Regions from separate parts of the Homo sapiens genome. Here regions 2, 3 and 4 are each linked to region 1. Evidence: fine-mapped expression QTL. A gene starts in region 1. Each other region holds a variant in brackets. All regions are shown on one strand. Distances are between the middles of the regions. Region 1 holds the start of GCN1 (GCN1 activator of EIF2AK4). Region 2 overlaps GCN1 (GCN1 activator of EIF2AK4). Region 3 overlaps BICDL1 (BICD family like cargo adaptor 1). Region 4 overlaps PXN (paxillin).

What was found. PIP is the estimated chance that this variant, and not a neighbour inherited with it, causes the effect. A credible set is the group of variants that fine-mapping cannot tell apart.
Region 2: its variant is the best candidate, but not a certain one, in a credible set for the expression of GCN1 in lung (GTEx, PIP 0.51).
Region 3: its variant is the best candidate, but not a certain one, in a credible set for the expression of GCN1 in whole blood (INTERVAL, PIP 0.71).
Region 4: its variant is the best candidate, but not a certain one, in a credible set for the expression of GCN1 in sigmoid colon (GTEx, PIP 0.67).

The regions. Positions count from the first base shown.
Region 1 is chr12:120,192,171-120,197,313 of GRCh38, forward strand. GCN1 (GCN1 activator of EIF2AK4) reads right to left here and starts at 2,545. Exons shown (of 58, transcript NM_006836.2): 1 at 2,510-2,545. The coding sequence starts at 2,527. RPLP0 (ribosomal protein lateral stalk subunit P0) reads right to left here. Exons shown (of 8, transcript NM_001002.4): 8 at 4,529-4,764. The coding sequence ends at 4,603. RefSeq lists a silencer at 2,253-2,842.
Region 2 is chr12:120,148,333-120,153,475 of GRCh38, forward strand. GCN1 (GCN1 activator of EIF2AK4) reads right to left here. Exons shown (of 58, transcript NM_006836.2): 33 at 4,881-5,075; 34 at 2,813-3,059; 35 at 1,590-1,711; 36 at 1,274-1,388; 37 at 1-14. Among named protein-coding and RNA genes, the nearest start is that of MIR4498, 4.6 kb to the right of the region's middle. The variant A/G (reference allele first, on the strand shown) is at 2,716.
Region 3 is chr12:120,070,621-120,075,763 of GRCh38, forward strand. BICDL1 (BICD family like cargo adaptor 1) reads left to right here. Exons shown (of 10, transcript NM_001367886.1): 5 at 1,002-1,181; 6 at 1,891-2,109; 7 at 3,823-3,966. Among named protein-coding and RNA genes, the nearest start is that of RAB35, 44 kb to the right of the region's middle. The variant C/G (reference allele first, on the strand shown) is at 2,479.
Region 4 is chr12:120,221,522-120,226,664 of GRCh38, forward strand. It overlaps PXN (paxillin), which reads right to left. Exons shown (of 15, transcript NM_001385981.1): 2 at 2,630-2,856; 3 at 2,197-2,312; 4 at 1,342-1,478; 5 at 1,028-1,229; 6 at 102-237. It overlaps LOC124903034 (a long non-coding RNA gene), which reads left to right. Exons shown (of 3, transcript XR_007063487.1): 2 at 1-2,882; 3 at 2,959-3,900. Among named protein-coding and RNA genes, the nearest start is that of PXN-AS1, 23 kb to the left of the region's middle. RefSeq lists silencers at 3,367-3,416, 3,725-4,019 and enhancers at 3,534-4,215, 4,833-4,882, 4,899-5,143. The variant T/C (reference allele first, on the strand shown) is at 2,653.

The DNA of each region.
Region 1 (5,143 bases):
TGCCATTTGTCTAAATCTCAGTACATTTAGGGAGATCAGGTATTCCATCAAATTCCACCTTCCTAAGGAAATCTCTCCCAGAGTTTTCTGACCTGCCCCAATTAGGCATGTGATCCTCTACAGCTGGGGCACAGTTTATCACCCTGAACATGTACTTTCTTGTGTTTGGGTGAAGCACAGCCTCCATTTTGTAAACTCCTTGCAAGTATGAAAATGTTCTGGCCAAATACAGAATTCTAGGTTGAAATCATTTTCCTTTAGAATACTGAAGACAAGGCTGGGTGCAGTGGCTCACGCCTGTAATCCCAGCACTTTGGGAGGCCAAGGCAGGCAGATCACAAGGTCAGGAGATCGAGACCATCCTGGCCAACATGGTGAAACCGCGTCTCTACTAAAAATACAAAAAAAAAAATTAGCTGGGCGTGGTGCCGGGTGCCTGTAATCCCAGCTACTTGGGAGGCTGAGGCAGAAGAATCGCTTGAACCCGGGAGGCAGAGGTTGTAGTGAGCCAAGATTGTGCCACTGCACTCTAGCCTGGGCGACAGAGCGAGACTCCGTCTCGAAAAAAAAAAAAAAAGAATACTGAAGACAAGGCCGGGCATGGTGGTTCACGCCTGTAATCCCAGCACTTTGGGAGACAGAGGCGGACAGATTGCTTGAGGTCAGAAGTTCGAGACCAGCCTACCCAACATGGTGAAACCCTGTCTCTACAAAAACTAGCCGGGCATGGTGGCGCATGCCTGTAATCCCAGCTACTCGGGAAGCTGAGGCAGGAGAATTGCTTGAACCTGGGAGGCAGAGGTTGCAGTGAGTTCAGATCGTGCCATTGCACTCCAGCCTGGGCAACAAGAGAGAAACTCCGTCTCAAAAAATAAAATAAAATAATAAAAAATAATTTCAGGCCAGGTGCGGTGGCTCACGCCTGTAATCCCAGCACTTTGGGAGGCCAAGGCAGAAGGATCACCTGAGGTCAGGAATTCGAGACCAGCCTGGCCAACATGGAGAAACCCCATCTCTACTAAAAATACAAAAATTATAAAATACAGAAATATTCTCCTGCACCACCCAATACGGTAGCCACTGGCTACATGTGGCTAACTGTGCACTGAAATGTGGCTGGTACAAGTGAAGAACTAAATTTTTTTTTTTTTTGAGACAGAGTCCCACTCTTGTTGCTCAGGCTGGAGCGCAGTGGTGCGATCTCAGCTCACTGCAACCTCTGCCTCCCAGGTTCAAGCGATTCTCATGCCTCAGCCTCCTGAGTAGCTGGAATTACAGACATGCCACCATACCCGGTTAATTTTTTGCATTTTTAGTAGAGACGGGGTTTTGCCACGTTGGTCAGACTAGTCTCAAACTCCTGACCTCAACTGATCCACCCGCCTTGGCCTCCCAAAGTGCTGGGATTACAGGGTGAGCCACCACGCCCAGCCAAACAATGAATTTTTTTATTTAATTTAATTTTAACAAACTTAAGCCATGTGGCTGCCATACTGGACATTGCAGCTCTAGAGATTTTTCCCTCAAGTGAGTATCAATGTTAAACATTCAGCATGTATTCCCCTAACCCTCTCATACTAAGCTTTTCTTTCTAGTATTCAGTACAACATAACTTGAACATCAGCCACCTGCATAGGAGTCTCAGTAAATGTCTTTTTGAATGCTTAAGTGGTCATTTTCTGGGCCTACACATAAAAATCAATCCCATCACCCTGGAGACACCAAATCAGCCCAGCTGTCCTTAGACACCTGTTCTTCCCCTGCCTCATGACAATGTCTTTTCACCTTAAAACATAACAACTGGGTGGAGGAAAAGGTTTTCCCAGGTCCTTCCTGAACTACAAGGTACCCATAGGTAACACTCTTCCTGGACAGGACAGTTCTTTTCACTAACCCTGGATCTGATAACAACCAACATATATCAAGCCGTATTTTATCTCACTGAACCTTCACAACAACCTTTTAAGATAAGTATTGTTTTAACTTCATTTTATAGATGAAAAGGCAGACTTGGCGGGGTTAAGTCACTTGTTTGGCATGTCACAGAAATCGACGAGCAGGAACTCAAGCCCAGATCTGTATGAATCCAAAGACTACACTCAAAGTCCCTGCTCATAGTAGGTGCTCAAAGAATATTTGCTGAATACAAAGTTTAAGGAAGACTTGGCGTTGGCCCGGGGCTCACAGCCGGAGGGCTTTGGAGAAAAGAAGTAGAGGCTCGGTAAAGTGAACTTCTGCAACTCTGGGGTCGGGCAAAGGCCCCGCCGAGCTCCAGCTGCTGAAGTCGAGGCGGGAGCCCCGGACTCCTCGAGCCCGCGGTCTGCCTGCGCCGCCCGGGCCGGGCCAAGCCCGCAGCCCTGAGAGTCCAGCCTGAGACGGCCCCGAGACTACGACCTCCACAGCCACCACCTCCAACGCCCCTAAGCCGAGGAGCGAGAGGGGCCCCGCCCGACGGCCACCGTCCGCACCCAGTCCCTGGCCGCGTTGGCCCCGCAGCCGCCCGCCTCACCTGCGTGTCCGCCGCCATCCTGCCGGGGCTGACTCCGGAACCGCTTCCGGAACGCTTCCGGGTCACAGCGTGGCCCACGCGGCAGGGCGAGGCCGGGAGCCAGCGGGGGCAGGGCCCCGGGCTTGGTGCCCCCGGGCAGGACGGCGGCCGCTGCAGCCCGGGCAGCCGGATCACGGGCTTAAAGTTGGCCCGCGCCCGAGCCACAAGGCCTCCTCCCCAGGGCCCGCTCTTCAGCCCCGGGCGCCTCGTGGGAGACTAGCGCTTGTAACGTGGTGAGCCCGCGGTGTAACGCTATGGGCCCGCCTTGCAGCCCCTGACCCACTTCCAGCCCGCAGGGCCAGCCCTACGTGGGCCTTTCCTGAGTGATGACTAAGTTCTTTAGAAAAACAAGTGTTGCTTCCTAGATAGCAGGAACTAAAAACTAGGTAAAAGAGTCGGTGAACTAGTCTTTTGTCCTCAGTTTGTAGTTCAGTTGGCGGATGACTTGTACAGGGTTAGCAAACGTGGCTGGATACGGAGGTCAGGGAAGGTTCAGAACTGAACGAGGCCCCTGCCCTGGGGAAATGCTGGACGCCCCAGGCTGGGAGTTTTGAAGGCCACAGGGCAAGAGGCTACGTGCAGACGTGGCTGCAATTTAGGGAACAGGGTCTCCACAGCTTAGTTGTCAGCCCTGTTAGCAGTGGCTTTCAAACCTTTGACACAGACCTAGTTAGAATGAATATATCATGTTCCAGCAGACAGATCTCTAAGTGAAATACAGGAATCACAACAAAAACACCTATTCTCAGCAGATGCTGCTTTCTCTTTAAATACTGGGGCCAGGCATGGTGGCTCACGCCTGTAATCCCAGCACTTTGGGAGGCTGAGGTGGGTAGATCAACCTGATGTTAGGATTTCCAGACCAGCCTGGTCAACATGACAAAACCTTGTCTCTACTAAAAATACCAAAAAAAAAAAAAAAAAAAAAAAAGGCCGGGTGCGGTGGCTCACCCTTGTATAATTCCAGCGCTTCGGGAGGACAGGGCGGGCAGATCACAAGGTCAGGAGTTCCAGACCAGCCTGGCCAACATAGTGAAACCCCGTCTCTACTAAAAGTACAAAAATTAGCCGAGTGGTGGCACATGCCTGTAGTCCCAGCTACTGGGGAGGCTGAGGTGGGAGAACCGCTTGAACCCGAGAGGCAGAGGTTGCAGTGAGCTGAGACCATACCATTGCACTCCAGTCTGGGTGACAGGACGAGACTGTCTCAACAACAAAAAAATTAGCCCGGTGTGGTGGCAGCCTCCGGTAATTGCAGCTACTTGGGAGGCTGAGGCAGGAGAATCACTTGAACCCAGGAGGCGGAGGTTGCAGTGAGCCAAGTCCAAGCCACTGCACCCCAGTCTCAAATATATTTGAGACTATCTCGAAAATATAAATTGGTTACCACCGAGTTGGAGCACCACCCAGTTTGAAAAACTTTACTCTAGGGGACTGGCCCCAGCATCCACCAGGTGCCTATCTCAGCTGACACTAAACCTACTCCAAGTATGCAGCAGCCATAGAAACAGTAATTCTAGTGTAATAGTTACAACTGTGTCTAGAAAACTGTATAGGATGTTTGATTGGTAGCTTCATTTAGATACCCAAACATCAACACCTAAATACAAAGCTCTGGTTTTACCATGGCTTTCGTTTCTAGCATATGGCACTATAAACCTCAAAATTAAGGGCCAGGCACATGGTGGCTCAAGCCTGTAATCCTAGCACTTTGGGAGGCTGAGGCAGGATTCCTTGAGGCCAGGAATTTGAGACCAGCTTGTGCAATATCTCTACAAAAAAAAAATTTAAAAATTAGTAGCTGAGTGTCATGGTGTGTGCCTGTAGTCCCAGCTACTTGGGAGGCTGAGATACGAGGATCCCTTGATCCCAGGAGTTCAAGGGTGCAGTGAGTTATGATTACACCACCACACTCCAGCCTGGGCAACAGCCAGACCCTGTGTCAAAAAGGAAAAAAAATTACAAAATTAAGAGTCCAGAGACTTTTTAAAGAAGTAAGCCTTTATTTCCTTGTTTTGCAAATAAAACTGGCTAAGTTGGTTGCTTTTTGGTGATTAGTCAAAGAGACCAAATCCCATATCCTCGTCCGACTCCTCCGACTCTTCCTTGGCTTCAACCTTAGCTGGGGCTGCAGCAGCAGCAGGAGCAGCTGTGGTGGCAGCAGCCACAGGGGCAGCAGCCACAAAGGCAGATGGATCAGCCAAGAAGGCCTTGACCTGAAAGGAGGGGGGAAGTGGTCAAAATGGTCATCCACACTCCTCTATTACCCACCACCCTCCTGCCTTGGTAGAGTTTAAGGACCAACAATATCAAAGTCCGTGTGAAGCCTTTCCTGTCAGAAGCAGCCCAAGCAGGACAGCTTGGGTATGGCCTAGTGAGGCAGGGTTCCTAAGGCCCAGCTCTTGCCCATTAACCCCCTCTTTGGGTCTCTTGTCATTTCTCAAGTGAGAAACGCCTTCCCTGCCTCCCAACCTCTCAAATATCCCCTCACAAAATTATCTGCTATATAAAATACAACTATAAAAGCAGTAAGGTAGAAGGCCACATCACCCTGCTAATTTGTCACAGTCAGGCCCACTGTGGTCCTGGTGGGAT
Region 2 (5,143 bases), 44 kb before region 1:
AAGCTCCACTGACCCTGTGGATAGCAGACACAAGCCCAGTACTGAATCACTGAGCAAAGGCCAGCAACTCACCTGTGCTGGCTACATGAGCAAGGGACATCTACCCTGGCCCCTGCAGACGGTGCTCAAGCAGTCACTGGGAGGAGGGGAGAGGGGGCTGGCTCTAGCAGAGGGGTCGAAAAAGCTCTTGTGGCCTGCTGAACAGTGGGATCCCAGGTGAGAGGCAGGGCAGTATGGGAGAAAGAGACCAGGATAGGTAAGACCTGGTTTAATCCTTACAGTGAGATCCAAGGCCAATTCACTGAATTTCTCTGAACTGTTTCTTCATCCACAAATGAGGAAACTGATTTAGATTTGTGTTGTTTCAAACTACAGGGTGAAGCCTGAAGGACTGAGAAGGAGGTTGAGTGGGAGGGCCTTAGATGGTGATCCTCCCCCAACTAGAGCAGCTCTACTTTTATCTGTTTGCTTATTAGGGTGCCAGACATTTTATTTATTTATTTTTGAGACAGGGTCTCACGCTGCTGCCCAGGTTGGAGTGTGGTGGCAAGATTATAGCTCGCTGCAGCCCCAAACTCCAGGGCTCAAGTGATCCTTCCACTTCAGCCTCCTGAGTAGCTGGGACTACAGGCATGCACCACCACACTTGGCCTATTTTTTTTTTTTTTGGTAGAGGTAGGGTCTTGCTATATTGCCCAGGCTGGTCTAAATTCCTGCCCTCAAGAGATTCTCCTGCCTAAGGTTATTTTCAAAAAGAGCTTTCCTGGGGGGGGAAAACTTTAAAGCCAAAGAGGAGCTTTAGAGCTTTAGGATATCCTGACTTAGGGTTGTGGCTCTTGTCAGAGACCTGTTTCTTGGCATGAAAGCACATAAACTATAGAAAGATCCAACTGCCAGAGGGAGAGCTGGCCAGGCGTGGTGACTCACACCTGCAATCCCAGTGCTTTGGGAGGCCAAGGCAGGAGGGTCACTTGAACCCAGGAATTCAAGGCCAGTCTGGGCAACATAGCGAGACTCCATCATTACAAAAAAAAATACAAAAATTAGCCAGGTGTAGTGGCATGCTCCTGTGAGAATGGTTTGAGCCCCAAAGGTAAAGACCAGCCTGGGTGATAGAGCAAGACTCCATCTCAAATTTTTAAAAAGGCAGAGTCTTAACCCTATCCCTGGTCTGGGGAGCTCACAGGACAAGAGCTGTGGCTACCCAGGATCCTTGCTGAGGCTGGTTTTCATAACAGGAAGCTGGGAAGAGAGGCAGAGCGAGTGGTCTTACCAGCTTTGGTCCGCCACGATTCCTCCTCCAGGGCAGCCAGTAAGGAGGGGAGCACCAGCTTCACCCCGTGAGCACTCAAGTTGCTCATCACAGCCTTGGCACAGTCATCTGCAGCCTCAAGGGGGGAGAAAACACATTCAGGGGCCTCCTCACCCAAGCAAGGGGCAAGGCCTGACACCAGTCCTAGCGTTCCTCCTATAACCAACGCTTACTGGGGTTCTATTATGTCAGACCCTGTGCCAAGGCCTGCAGACACAGCTGGGAACACATCTCATAAAGTTTCCATGCTGTTCTCCCGAGCAGTCCGGGGACTTACCTCACGCACATACTGGTTTCCATCCCCAAAGCACAGGAGCAGATGGGGCAGCACGTGAACCACATACGGCTCAAAAAGTTTCCCCAGCATGGTGCAGAGCATCTCGAAGGCAAAGAGGGCTCCTAGGGGAAAAGAAGGTGGGACGGCTGGGAAGAGAATGTCCCCTGGGGGTAGCCACAGAGAACAGAAGGGACAGCAACCTCCCTGCCACCTCCCACCCCTCTGGAAACACTCAGAAACAGCTGTGGAACTAGTAGATGCCCCATGAGGAGGCAGCACCCTCTGCCTCAGCTCAAGAAGCCCCAGCAAAGGAATGTGGCTGAGCGAAAGGGAGGACAGCACAGGGGAGCCACCTTCACTTCTTGGCACTAACAGTTAAAAAAGCCAAACCTTGGCCGGGCGCGGTGGCTCACACCCATAATCCCAACACTTTGGGAGGCTGAGGCAGGCAGATCACGAGGTCAGGAAATAGAGACCATCTTGGCCAACATGGTGAAACCCTGTCTCTACTAAAAATACAAAAATTAGCTGGGTATGGTGGTGGGCACCTGTAACCCCAGCTACTAGGGTGGCTGAGGTAGGAGAATTGCTTGAACCCAGGAGGTGAAGATTGCAGTGAGCCGAGATTGTGCCTGGAGACAGAGTGGGACTCCATCTCAAAAAAAAAAGAAAGAAAGAAAGAAAGAAAAGCCAAACCTCTCTCAGCTAAGGGTGTTGCTGAGTTAGAAATTTGTGGCCGGGCGCGGTGGTTCATGCCTGTAATCCCAGCACTTTGGGAGGCTGAGGCGGACAGATCACGAGGTCAGGAGATCGAGACCATCCTGGCTAACACGGTGAAACCCCGCCTCTACTAAAAATACAAAAAATTAGCCGGGCGTGGTGGCGGGCGCCTGTGGTCCCAGCTACTTGGGAGGCTAAGGCAGGAGAATGGCATGAACCCAGGAGGCTGAGCTTGCAGTGAGCCAAGATCACGCCACTGCACTCTAGCCTGGGCGACAGAGCGAGACTCCGTCTCAAAAAAAAAAAACAGAAAAGAAAAAAAAATTTGCAAGTCCAAGGAAAGCAGCAAGGACGCAGCTGGACTGGGTCGCACACAGCGGGGCCCTCTGTAGTACACGCACAAGCA[A/G]CGGCCTCCACCTGGGGCGCCACGGTCAGATTCCTTCCTCTGGCAACCTGGGGACCAACTTCCCATGCTGGGCAGCCCCAAGCTCAGAGATGCTCACCCTCTCGCCGGCGGAAGTTCTTCTTATCTTGGATGGCATCAGTCAGTGCCGCCATCATCTCCTGTTGCTTCAGCGAGAGGATGCCCAGGCCCTTCACCAGGCCCGCCAGGCCATAGGCGGCCCCTTTGCGCTCTGCGTACTTGTCTGACTCCAGCAGCTGCTGCATAAGCCTCTGGATCATCCCTCCAGCATCCTCCTTGATGGCTGGCACAAGGGGTGGCAAGCAGCTGGCTACGGACTCCTGGACCTGGGGAAGGGCCCACCTGTCAATGCTGTGGCTCCGCTGCAGCCGTTTCATGGTTGGTGGGGGGTCTGACCATTCTACACAGCACCCACCACTAGATGTCCCAAGCCCCATCTCAGCCACTGCCTGCGGATGTCACAGGGCACCAGAGAAGCAAACAGGTATACACAGTGTTGTATACCTCTGAGGGTGCACACTACAATCTGCTGACGACAAAAGCTTTGGCCCATATGGTGCCATTTCTGGTCTAAATGGAAAACCTAGGCCTGGGCAGTGGGGCAGGGGACCAAGGAAGGGACTCTAAAGACTAAATCCACTCAGAAAGAAAGCTTCCAGAGAAGTGTGCTGCTTTGCCTCCATAAAAACAGCCCGTGTCTCTGTTTCCAAACTTGTCAAAATCACAGAGAAATTGGGCAGGGCCTTATAGGACCAGGCACAAATTGAGTGGAACCAAAAGACACTCAATCCTGCCTCCCAGCCGCAGCTCACTAAGCCCAGCTTGGGAGCAGCAACCCCGAGGCCATGCTGGCAGGTGCCCAGGTGCGACTCTTTTGCTGCTTAGGCTTTCTGACACCATATTTGACCACAATTTTGGAAACTGGTTTTCAACTGTGCATTTTTTTGGTAAAGTTTTTTGTTGTTTTTTGTTTTTGTTTTTAGAAATAGGGTCTTACTCTGTCACCCAGGCTACAGTGCAGTGGCACAATCATAATTCACTATAACCTTGAATTCCTGGACTCAAGCAATCCTATTGCCTCGGTCTCCTGAGTAGCTAGGAACACAGGCATGGCCTCCACCTCTGGCTAATTTTTAAAGTTTTTGTAGAGACAGGATCTCACTATGTTGCCCAGGCTGGTCTCGAACTACTGGCCTTAAGCAATCCTCCCACCTCAGCCTCCTAAAGCACTGGGATTATAGGCATGAGCCACCACGCCCAGCCCAACTGTTCACTTTATGAAGACACTCTAAGTGGTCCAAAATGCAAACCACACACACACGCGCACACACACACACACACACACAAAATATATATATATAAATATATATATATTTATATATATATACATGCGTGTTTTTCAAAACAAAGAAAAAGAAATTTATTTGCACTGTAGCTTAGAGGCTACATTAAAACGCACCTGTAGCCTCCTAAAGCACTGGGATTATAGGCATGAGCCACCACGCCCAGCCCAACTGTTCACTTTATGAAGACACTCTAAGTGGTCCAAAATGCAAACCACACACACACGCGCACACACACACACACACACACAAAATATATATATATAAATATATATATATTTATATATACATACATGCGTGTTTTTCAAAACAAAGAAAAAGAAATTTATTTGCACTGTAGCTTAGAGGCTACATTAAAACGCACCTGTAACACACAACCAACACATGTAGAGGGCCAGAAAAAGGCTTGACATAAGAGAAAGCCTGACCTTTTATTTTTTTTCCCTTTGGATTCCCAGTGCACGTTAGTGAATAGAAAAAATGGAACTATCTAGGAGGTCTATTAGAACAAAGTAACAAAGAAACTCCCTCTCCAGGGGCATTCTTCACTATAAACCAGGTGAGTAGAAAAAAATGAAACTATCTGGGAGGTCTACTAGAACAAAGTAACAAAGAAACTCCCTCTCCAGGAGTGTTCCTGACTATAAACCAGGCTCTCCCCTGCGAGAGGGGGTGAATCCTTAACAAGAACTGGGCTTTCAGGGCCCTGATTGTCCAACTCCACCCCTAGTATCCCACCGCCTAACCACAGCCGGGTCCCAATTCTCTAACCGACATGTGGGTCCCAGGCCAGATGGCAGGTACCTGCTGGGAGGGGGTGGAGAGGGCAGCGATGAGCTTGGCAACAATGGGCTTCACTTTGGGGTCACTCTTGTCCAGGTGCTTGGCCAGAGAGCCCATCAGGACCACCACACTCTGTCGCACAGCATCATAGCTGGCATCATTGGGCGCGTTCTTCAGGAACTCCTCGAATACTGGCAACAGCGAGTTGACGTTCTCCTGGAAAGCCAAACCCCTCAGAGCCTCAGGTCAACCCTACAGGCTGCATCTGGGGACAACAGTCCCTG
Region 3 (5,143 bases), 120 kb before region 1:
GAGTGTTCAGATTTTCACTTGTCTTATAAACGTCCATAATTTTTTTACATTTTTGTTTGAATCAAGATACAGATTAAAATGGGCCTACATAGTGCGATTGGTTGGTATAACTCTTTTTTTTTTTTTTTGAGACGGAGTTTCATTCTTGTCGCCCAGGCTGGAGTGCAATGGCGCAATCTCGGCTCACTGTCACCTCCGCCTCCTGGGTTCAAGCGATTCTCCTGCCTCAGCCTCCCGAGTAGCTGGGATTACAGGCGCCTGCCACCATGCCCAGCTAATTTTTGTATTTTAGTAGAGACAGATTTCACCATGTTGGCCAGGCTGGTCTCGAACTCCTGATTTCAGATGATCTGCCCCCTTTGGCCTTCCAAAATGCTGGTGTTACAGGCGTGAGCCACCACGCCCGGCCTGGTTGGTATAACTCAAGTCTTTTTTTATTTCTGTGTTCCTCCTTTATCTGTTTTTTCCCTTGCAATGTTTTTGTTAAGGAAATGGAGTTGTTTGTCCTATAGAATTTTCTTTTTTCTTTTTTTCTTTTTTGAGGTGGCGTCTCGCACTGTCACCCAGGTTGGAGTGCAATGGCGTGATCTTAGCTCATTGCAACGTCCGCCTCCTGGGTTCAAGCGATTCTCCTGCCTCATTCCCCAAGTAGCTGGGATTTCAGGTACCCGCCACCACGCCCAGCTAATTTTTGTATTTTTAGTAGAGGCAGGGTTTCATCATGTTGGCCAGGCTGGTCTCATACTCCTGACCTTAGGTGATCTGCCCGCCTCGGCCTCCCAAAGTGCTGGGATTACAGGGGTGAGCCACCGCGCCCAGTCAGAATTTTCTAGATCTGGATTTTGCTGAGTGCATCTCCTGATGTAGTTTAACATGTTCTTCTCTCCTATTTATTTTTCTATAAATTGGTGGTTGGATCCAGAAGCATGATCAGGTTGAGGGTCAGTTTGTCTTGGTTTTTGTGTTTGGTAAACCTCAACCATTTGCTCTTTCTTTGAAAGCTGCACCAAAGCCAGCTGGAGCTTCAGGAGGTGCGTCTCTCCTGCCGACAGCTGCAGGTGAAGGTGGAAGAACTCACTGAGGAGAGGAGTCTGCAGAGCTCTGCCGCCACCAGCACATCCCTCCTGTCAGAGATCGAGCAGAGCATGGAGGCTGAGGAGCTGGAGCAGGAGCGAGAGCAGGTGCTGACCTGCCTGTCACCCCACAGGCGAGGCTACCTGGGGTTGCTTAGGTCTCATCCTCCTCCCTAGTGCTCAGCTGCCATCCTGGCAAGGCTGTGCCCCTGTGCCTGTGTCAGCCCCTTGGCCTGCTGGCTAGAGTGTCATGAAGCAGGCCCTGATGGAGCATGTCCCTGGCCCTCCATTTTCCACCCACTTTATCCATTAAGGCATTGAGCAGAATTGCTAGAGGACAGAGTATCATAGGCACAGCCAATTCCCACTCATTGTCACCCCAGTTCCTCTTAGGAAATGCTTGTGCCATCAGCTCCATACCTGTTATACTGACAGAGTTCCAGAGCAGTCATGATCCATCTTCTCCATCTAACTGGTTTCTTTTCACACTTTTCATAATACAGAACCATTCATTCCCCTGATTGTTTTCTGACTCCCACCAAAATAACTGATTATATAAAGAAGTGCTTTATATTGTGAATGGAAGAAGCTAGAGAACAGGGAGAATAAGAATTTGGAATCTGTATAAATGTACTTGGTTCAGAATAAGTATTATTTCTTGGGACAAATGAGTTAAAAAAAAAACACAGAACAAAAAACCCTTTCTTCTAGAACTGGTGTCTTGGGTATCAGTATTTTGGGTTCAGAGCTAGAAAAAGATGGCCAGGTAGCAGTCTTCTCTAGAGTCTGAAATGAATAGTAATTCTCTGTGGAACAGCTGAGACTGCAGCTCTGGGAAGCCTACTGCCAGGTTCGCTATCTGTGCTCACACCTTCGAGGCAATGACAGTGCTGACTCAGCCGTCTCCACGGACTCCTCCATGGACGAGTCTTCAGAAACCTCGTCCGCCAAGGATGTGCCAGCCGGCAGCTTGCGCACTGCCCTCAATGAGCTCAAGAGACTGATACAGAGCATTGTGGATGGCATGGAGCCCACGGTAAGAGGCCAGTCTGAGATGGTCCTTACCCCACAGGAGCTGGCTGGTGGGAGGTTAGAACCCAGTGCATAGGGTGAGGTCAGCCATGGAACTGGAACCCTATAAAATATCTGCAAGAATTCTTCTGAGCCCTTATTGGTTGTTTTGGATTTTGTTTTTGAGACAGAGTCTCGCTCTGTTACCCCGGCTGGAGTGAGGTGGCACAATCTCGGCTCACTGCAACCTCTGCCTCTCAGGTTCAAGTGATTCTCGTGCCTCAGCTCCCTGAGTAGCTGGGATTACAGGCGTGCACCACCAACCACACCCAGCTAGTTTTTGCATTTTTAGTAGACACAGGGTTTTACCATGTTGGCCAGGCTAGTTTTAACT[C/G]TTGACCTCAAGTGATACACCCATCTCAGCCTCCTAAAGTGCTGGGATTGCAGGCGTGAGCCACCACGCCAGGCCGTGAGCCCTTATTTGAGAACACCAACTACTGCTGTGATGAGGCAGAGGGGCCAAGTGTCAGGGCTCCAAAGGCAGCTTCCTGCACACACCAGGTACACATAGAGCCTTTTTCTCCAGGTAGTGATGTACAGACAATGGCAGCTTCCAGTTTAAGGGCTTTCCTTGGAAACTTTGCATATAGAAGTTTGTATCCAAGTAAAAACTGTAAGTTGCTATTCTATAGCCCTTTGGTCCTAGTGGTAGGGTTAGCTGTGAATTGGCAAAAGTAAAAGATCTGAAGCTTCCGCCAAAAGAATGTAAGTGAGCACAGGAAGTTGGGAAGATCAGCTCTAAGGGCCTTTTAGAATCCTAGATGTGGCCACCTGTGGAGGAGAGGACTGTTCCCGTGGGCATCCTGGGCAGTCTGGCATTTCTTCCAGCTTCATGACACATTTCTCCCCGACTTACCCTCCACTCACGCTCCCAGCTTTTTGGCTATTATTTCTCCTCACGTTTCATCCTCCTACAGAAAACTTGTGTCTTTCTGCCTGTATTGGGTAAAGTAATATGAAGGGTAGCTGTTCTGTCTGACCATGCCGTATTGATCTGTGGGAGGTATTATACTATGAGGCCAGGTCATTGTGGGAGAAGAGAGCTGTCAGAATGTGATGGTGTGCTATTCCCACCACACGGCTTCCTTTCCCCCAAGCCTGAAACAAAAGTGAACATCTGTTTGCAGGTTGAAATTGAGCAATCTCTTTTTTTTGTTTGTTTTTTGTTTTTTTGAGACGGAGTCTCGCTCTGTTGCCCAGGCTGGAGTGCTGTGGCGCCATCTTGGCTCACTGCAACCTCTGCCTCCCGGGTTCACGCCATTCTCCTGCCTCCCAAGTAGCTGGGACTACAGGTGCCCACCACCACACCCGGCTAATTTTTTGTATTTTTAGTAGAGACAGGGTTTCACCGTGTTAGCCAGGATGGTCTCGATCTCCTGACCTCGTGATCTGCTGCCTCGGCCTCCCAAAGTGCTGGGATTACAGCGTGAGCCACTGCGCCCGGCCACAATCTCTCTTCTTGACCCCTTCTTCCTTCCACCTTTTGTCTCTTCCCTCCTCCTTTTCTCCTTCCCTTCATCTTCCCTACTATCTTTCCCCACTATCTTTCCCCACATCATTCCTCCACTCTCCCCCATTTCTCCTCTCCTTCTCTCCCCGACTAACCATCTCTCTCCCCCTTCCCTATCTCTCCTGTACCCTTACCATATCTGTCTGGCTGTCTTTCTTTTACTGTCAGGGCTCCCGGAGACTTGATGATGACTCCTTAGAAGAACAGATAAGGCAGACCAGTGAGGACTCGAGAGCCCTAAGGGAGCTCATGGAGGGAGAGAGGGGTAAACTGAGGCAAAGCCTAGAAGAGCTGCAGCGACTCCACAGTCAGGTGAGCACCCCAACCTTCAGTTCAGTGCAGGGCATGTGCACCTGCCCCTGGCTCTCTTGGGACCCTTTTGAGTTTCTCTCTCCCATTTCTGTGTGAGAAGTGGCTCTCCTTCATCAGATCATCAAGGAATGGTGACCTGAAGTTGAGGTAAACTGAATGTCTTCAAGAGAAGAACCCAGTCCTTTAGCCCAAAGTAAAATTGGCAGGGATGAGAATGGCTGGTCCTCCATTTCCTCCAGTGACACTCTGCCTTATACAGAGCCAAAGTTAATCTGACTGGTAGATGCTGACAGCCCTCGGGCTACTTATGGGTGCTTTTCCAGCAGTTGCTGGGCAGGGAAGTTTGCAAACCAAGGAACAATTGATCTTTACAGCACAGTTCCCTTTTGTAAGTGCCATCACTTCTCTCAGCCTGTTCTTCTGCTTTAGAAGAACTTACTGCTACCCTTGCTGTTCCTTTCTCATTTGATCACGATTTCATCTCTCTAGAGAACGCTGAAGGAAGACATTTATATTCTCATCTGAGAAACTTTAAAGGACTTATAGGCAGCCCCACCCAAAAAGGAGCTTCTAAAACCTATCCTAGGAGATAGATAAAGGCTCTTCCTGTTGACTGTGGTCATGTGTAGAGGTTCTGTGCTGCTTGGGAGTAGGGGCTGGGGTAGCACCAAGCAAGCAGCATCTAAACCTTGCTCCTGCCCCTGTCCTTTCCTGGCTCAAAGCTGTTCACGCCTTGCTGCTGCATGAGGTTTCTTTGAGATGGAATTTAAGCCTGCCTTTCACTTCAGTCAGTATTTCCTCTTTTTTTTTTTTTTTTATTTCTTTTTGAGACAGGGTTTCACTCTTGCCCAGGCTGGAGTATAGTGGCGCAGTCACAGCTCATTGCAGCCTTGACTTCTAGGCTCAAGCAATCCTTCCACCTCAGCTGCCAAAGTAGCTGGGACTACAGGCGTACGCCACCATGCCCAACTAATTTTTTGTAGAGATGAGGGTTCGCCATGTTGCCTAGGCTGGTCTCAAACTCCTGGGCTCAAGAGAACCACTCACCTCAGACTCTCAAAGTGCTGGGATTACAGGTGTGACCCACCACATGTGGCCCCAGTCAGTATTTCCTACATTTGAAATATCTTTATAGAAAGAAACTCCCCTTTTCTGGGAGTCATCCCGTTAGTCTTCC
Region 4 (5,143 bases), 29 kb after region 1:
AACACTGAGATGCCAAGATCCAGCTACCCACACTGAGGTAAGGGAGGAGAAGGATGAGGGAGGGGCGGCAGGGCAGGGAAGATGGAGGGTTCACAGGGCACCTTGAAATCCGACAGCGAAGCCATCAGCTCGTCCAGCTCCCTGGTGGCAGAGGAGGCCGAGATGCGTGTCTGCTGTTGGGTGGAGGTGACGCGCTGCGGGCTGCTCATCTCGCCCTGGTTCACAGTGATGGCAGGGCTGCAGGGTGGGCACAGCATCAGTGGGGAGCCCACAGTCAGCCCCACACTTCCCGGGGATCAGATCGACCTCTCACCTCGGACACTGGGGTCTCACCATCCCCAACCCCAGGGAGGTCCACCAGCTCCCTGTCTCTCCTGGGGACCCATCACTGGGTCAGAAGAAAGGGCAGTTCAATGGCACCAGGAAGTGCCAGGAAGACTCCTCTAGCCCCCAGCCCAAGTGAAAGCTGGCCTGCGAAACAAGCCCAAGCGCCCTGTGTTTCCTCCACAACACTGGACATGGAGGTGAGGCTACTGCAGTAACACGACGGCACTGGTAAGAGCTCGCGTGTTGGGCACTCACCATGTGTGCCACGCACTACACACCAGAAACCATTCCAAGCGCTTTACATGGATTACTGGTTCTCACCCTTACTGAGGTAGGTGGTCTTATCCCAGTGATCCCATAAGTTCTTGTCCCATTTTACAGATGGGAAAACTAAGGCTTGAGAGCTGACAGTAACTGTCAGAGCCAAGATGTGAACCCCACTGTGTGGCCCCAAAGCCTGTGCTAAGAGCTGCTAAGCTCCAGGCGCCCTCAGCCTGCACAACGTCTGTCCTTTCTGACTGGCAGTGACTGGCTGAAGGCAGGGATGGTGTCCATGTGACTCACCACTATCCCCCCAGTGCCTGGCAAATGGCAGACACGGGAGGGAGTGGGTGATACCAGGGCTAAGGGGACAGACACTGGACCCGGGGCAGGCTGGGCCAGCCCTTCCCCACCTGGGGAGGGCCCAGTGGGTACTCACACGGGGCTGGGCACGGAGCTCTCCAGTTCATCCAAGAGACTCTCCACACTGGGCCGCACGTCCTCCAGGCCCCGGCCCCCATTCCGCTTAGGCTTCTCTTTCGTCAGGGGCCCAGCTTTGCCTCCCAAGGGGCTGTTAGTCTCTGGGACACCATAGAGGGGGCTCAGGGCCCCAGGAAGCGGGGGGCTTGAGTTGGCCTCATCTTGCAGAGAGGAGAGAAAAAGGCTGCTCAGCCCTTGAGCCCTCCTGGGATCTAGAGGTCAGCAGATGGGCCCTGGGCCCTGGTAGACCCTGCCCCAGGGACCCGGTCCTACCTGCAGGGAAGCCTGGCGGGTTATGCTGTACAGCGTTCAGTTCCAGCAGCAGGCGGTCGAGTTCAGAAAGGTTGCTGCCCAGGGACGTGCTCATTACGGTGGGTGAAGGCTCAGCTGATTTCTGCTTGTTGGGGAAGCTTTGAGAGGCAAAGGAAAGAAGATAGTGAGAGATGCTTTCTGGCCTTGTACTGGCTTGGCAGTTCCCAGATTCCCAAGGAGAACAAGGCAGAGGAGATGCGAAGTCTTCCCCCGCAAGAGGACAGAGGGTAGGGAAGGGATGTGGTAAGAAGAGGGGAGGAGGCCGGGCACAGTGGCTCACGCCTGTAATCCCAGCACTTTGGGAGGCTGAGGCGGGCAGATCATGAGGTCAGGAGATTGAGACCATCCTGGCTAACACGGTGAAACCCCGTCTCTACTAAAAATTAGCCAGGCGTGGTGGTGGGTGCCTGTAGTCCCAGCTACTTGGGAGGCTGAGGCAGGAGAATGGCGTGAACCCAGGAGGCGGAGCTTGCAGTGAGCCGAGATCGCGCGACTGCACTCCAGCCTGGGCGACAGAGTGACAGAGCGAGACCCCGTCTCAAAAAAAAAGAAAAAAAGAAGAGGGGAGGAATGAAGTCTTGCTTCAGTTCCTCAGCTACACGGAGATGCTGTGATAGCCCAGAATGTCCACTGCATGGAGATGGCACTGATGAGGTAGACGGGCCCACCGACAGGCCTTCTGCAGCTTAAACCAGAATAACCCCACAAGGCCCAGTTGCTATGCCTGCTCCCGGGCCTCCGCTGCCTCCCACCCTGGCCAGGTCCCTGAGATTTCTAAGCAGGAGGGAAGGTGCCCTGGGCAGACTGGGGCAGTACCTGTAGACGTGCTCCTCCTCACCCACTCGGGAGCACGGAGAGCCAACACTGTCCTGAGGGTTGGAGACACTGGAAGTTTTGGCACTGGAGCCGTACACAGGTGATGAGGACTGAGGCTGCGAGAAGGAGAATGCTCAGAGGCTACCCCGAGGGGAGAAAAAGGAACAGGGGCCAGGAGCAGCTCCAGTCACCCCCAGGAGGCTCCTGCCCACAGCCAGTCTCACCAGGGAATTTCCACAGTTGGGCCAGGAAACCTGTGATTAACCACTTGGTCACTGTTCCACTCACGTGGTGAGTGGGAAGAGCAGTGTCTGGTTGGGAAGGGTCGACTGCCCCAATTCCATTCCATCCCCTGGCTCCCTAAGCCCCTGCCAGCTAAGTTCCCTCTGTCCCCCAGCCTCCTTGGCCTTCCCAGCCACTGTCCCCGCCTCACCTGCTGGTGGATGAATCGGGAGC[T/C]GCTGGGCTGCCACTGGTCTAAGGGGTCAAGGATTGTGCCATTGAGGGCCTCGCTGGACGGGGGTGGGGGGACGGGGGGTGGCACGGCAATCTCCTGGTATGTGTGGTTTCCAGTTGGGTATGAGTAGGGGGTCTCCTCCGACAAGAACACAGGCCGTTTGGAGATGTGGGAGGTGGTAGACTCCAAGTCCGCCAGCAGGGCGTCTGCAAAGAGAAGGCACGGGTAGCAGGTGAGAACCGGGATCCTGGGGACTCTCCCGTGGCAGGGCCCTCCCTGCCTGCACCTCAAGAGTTAATGCCTTCTAGCACCTGCCCCACCCATGGGAGAAATGACCAGCCTTGGGACAGGAAGCCACCAGCCCCGACCAGCCTAACCAAGAGCCGGCTCCCAAAGCTAACTTCTTCTGGCCACCCAGGACTGAAAGTGCTCTAGAGGCGGGCTCTGGGGCTGCCCTGTGGGATCTCCTACCTCTGGGAGTCAGGCACCTGGCACTGCGTTCCCTCCTGACAGGGCCGCGCAGCCGCGAGTGAAGTGCCTGTCTGGAACTCTGAATCTGCAGGGCAACGCGGAGAGAATGGGCGGGAGGGGCCCCACGTCACAGGGAGGGGCCCTGGCTATGCCAGGCCCTCACTTGATTTCTAAGAGCTTAGGCTTTCCCAGCCCCCGACTGGAAGGGGCACTCAGGATGGTCCCTGCCCTCCTAACCAGGTGGAAGCAGAAGCCCAGGCTCCAGGTTCCTCCTGAGGCTCTAGGCTTATGGGGTAAGGTGTGCGGGGAGGTGGGGGCTGGAGTGAGGCTGGTGCAGCGGTCCCCACCCCCTCAGTGAGCAGGGGGCAAGACTGCTCCATTGGCTGTTTCTGCGGAAGTCTGGCAAGCAGCCCGGCCCCAGAGGCTCCAGGCCCCCACTGTTCTGCTTTTAACAGCGGCAAGGGAGCCAAATCAGCCCTCTAGTGTAAGCTTCCATTACCCTGGCACCTGGCAGCCAACAGGGGGGCACTAGGTCTCCCCAGTCTCCAGAAAAGAAGGGTATAGAAGGGCAGGAGTAGGACCTGCTGACCCCCACTTCCTCCATCCCCTCCTGGGACCCTCAACAGCCCCACGGCTCAGACAGCCTGGCCCTGGATGCCACACCCTCATTCCTGCCCCGTTCACAACTTGCTTGCTCTCAGCTCCCCGGTAACCTGCTGGGTCCAGGGAGCTGACAGCTTGATCCCTAGCCCTCAGGATAATAAACATCTAAAAAGCAATGGCTGCGTTTATTGCCACTTATCAGTAGCAGGCAGACTGCTAGGCATTCTAGCAGCATGTACGAGGTCTCCGTTAATCCCCCTAATACCCCCTGTAGCTGGAAATGATTCTCCCCGAAGCGATGAGGAAAGCCGGGCTTGGAGAGGCAGAGGTCAGAGGTGTTTGCTCCAAATAACAAAGCCAGTGAGTGGCACAATTGTCTGACTCCTCAGAAGCCCCAAACCCCAAAAACCTGGCCTGTAAGAGGCCACTATGACTACCAGATGATGCCATACTTAAAGGGTTCAACTTCCTGAATGTTGGAGGCCCAAGCTGTGAGGCCTGCCAGTGTGATCCTTCCTTGTGGCCTTGCTCCCAGTCCCCCAACCTGTGTTCAGAGGAGGGAATAGAGAAGCAAGGCCCTCACCCAGGGCCTCGGTCTATGGGGCCACACCTTGTCCCAGCTGCCTGTCCTGATCTCCTACCCTCAAGGCTGGCCACACCTACCCCATGCTCCTGCCCAGATGGACAGAGGGGATGTCTGTTCCAAGGCCCAGGACCCCGGGTCTGGTCGCCTGACCTCCAAGGAAGTTCAGGTCCTACAGCCCGCCCCGCCCTCCGGGTCCCATGGAGGAGGCCTGGCTTCCTGTCTCTAGCAAACCGGAACTAGAGGGAGTTGGTAGGTATCTAGGTAACGGCAGAAAAGGAACCAGTGTCCAGGCCAATCCCCACGGCCTCTCCAGGGCCACACCTGCTGTCTTGGCTTCACGCAGTGTCCTCATTTCCTCTGGGCCCAATCAGCAATGGGTGGATCCCTCTTTCTCCACCATGGGCAGGGCCAGCTAAGAAACCCCATAGGACTCCCCAGAGCAGGCAACGAATGAGTGCAACCCCAGTAGGGGGCAGGAGCAGCTGCCATCCTTGAAGGCCCACTGGGGCCAGGAGCTTCACCTTTGTTACCTGCCATCCTCACAACGCCACCAGCACAGATGGTATAACTGCGGTTCAGAGGCAGAGTCACATCCCACACTGCCAAGGCTGGATGAAGTGACAATGCTGGACTCTGATCTCAGGTCTCTTGGACTCCAAACACCCAACAGAAGACAAATGGTCAGGCTTCCTTGTCAAACATTTTGAATCAGGGACTCCACCAAACACCCGCTCCACCACAATGTGATTCTAAGCCTGGGCTTTTGGTTTATGGATTGGATTCAGGTTTACAATGTCAACAGGCTCTTGGGAGCACAGATCCCTAGGCTGGTG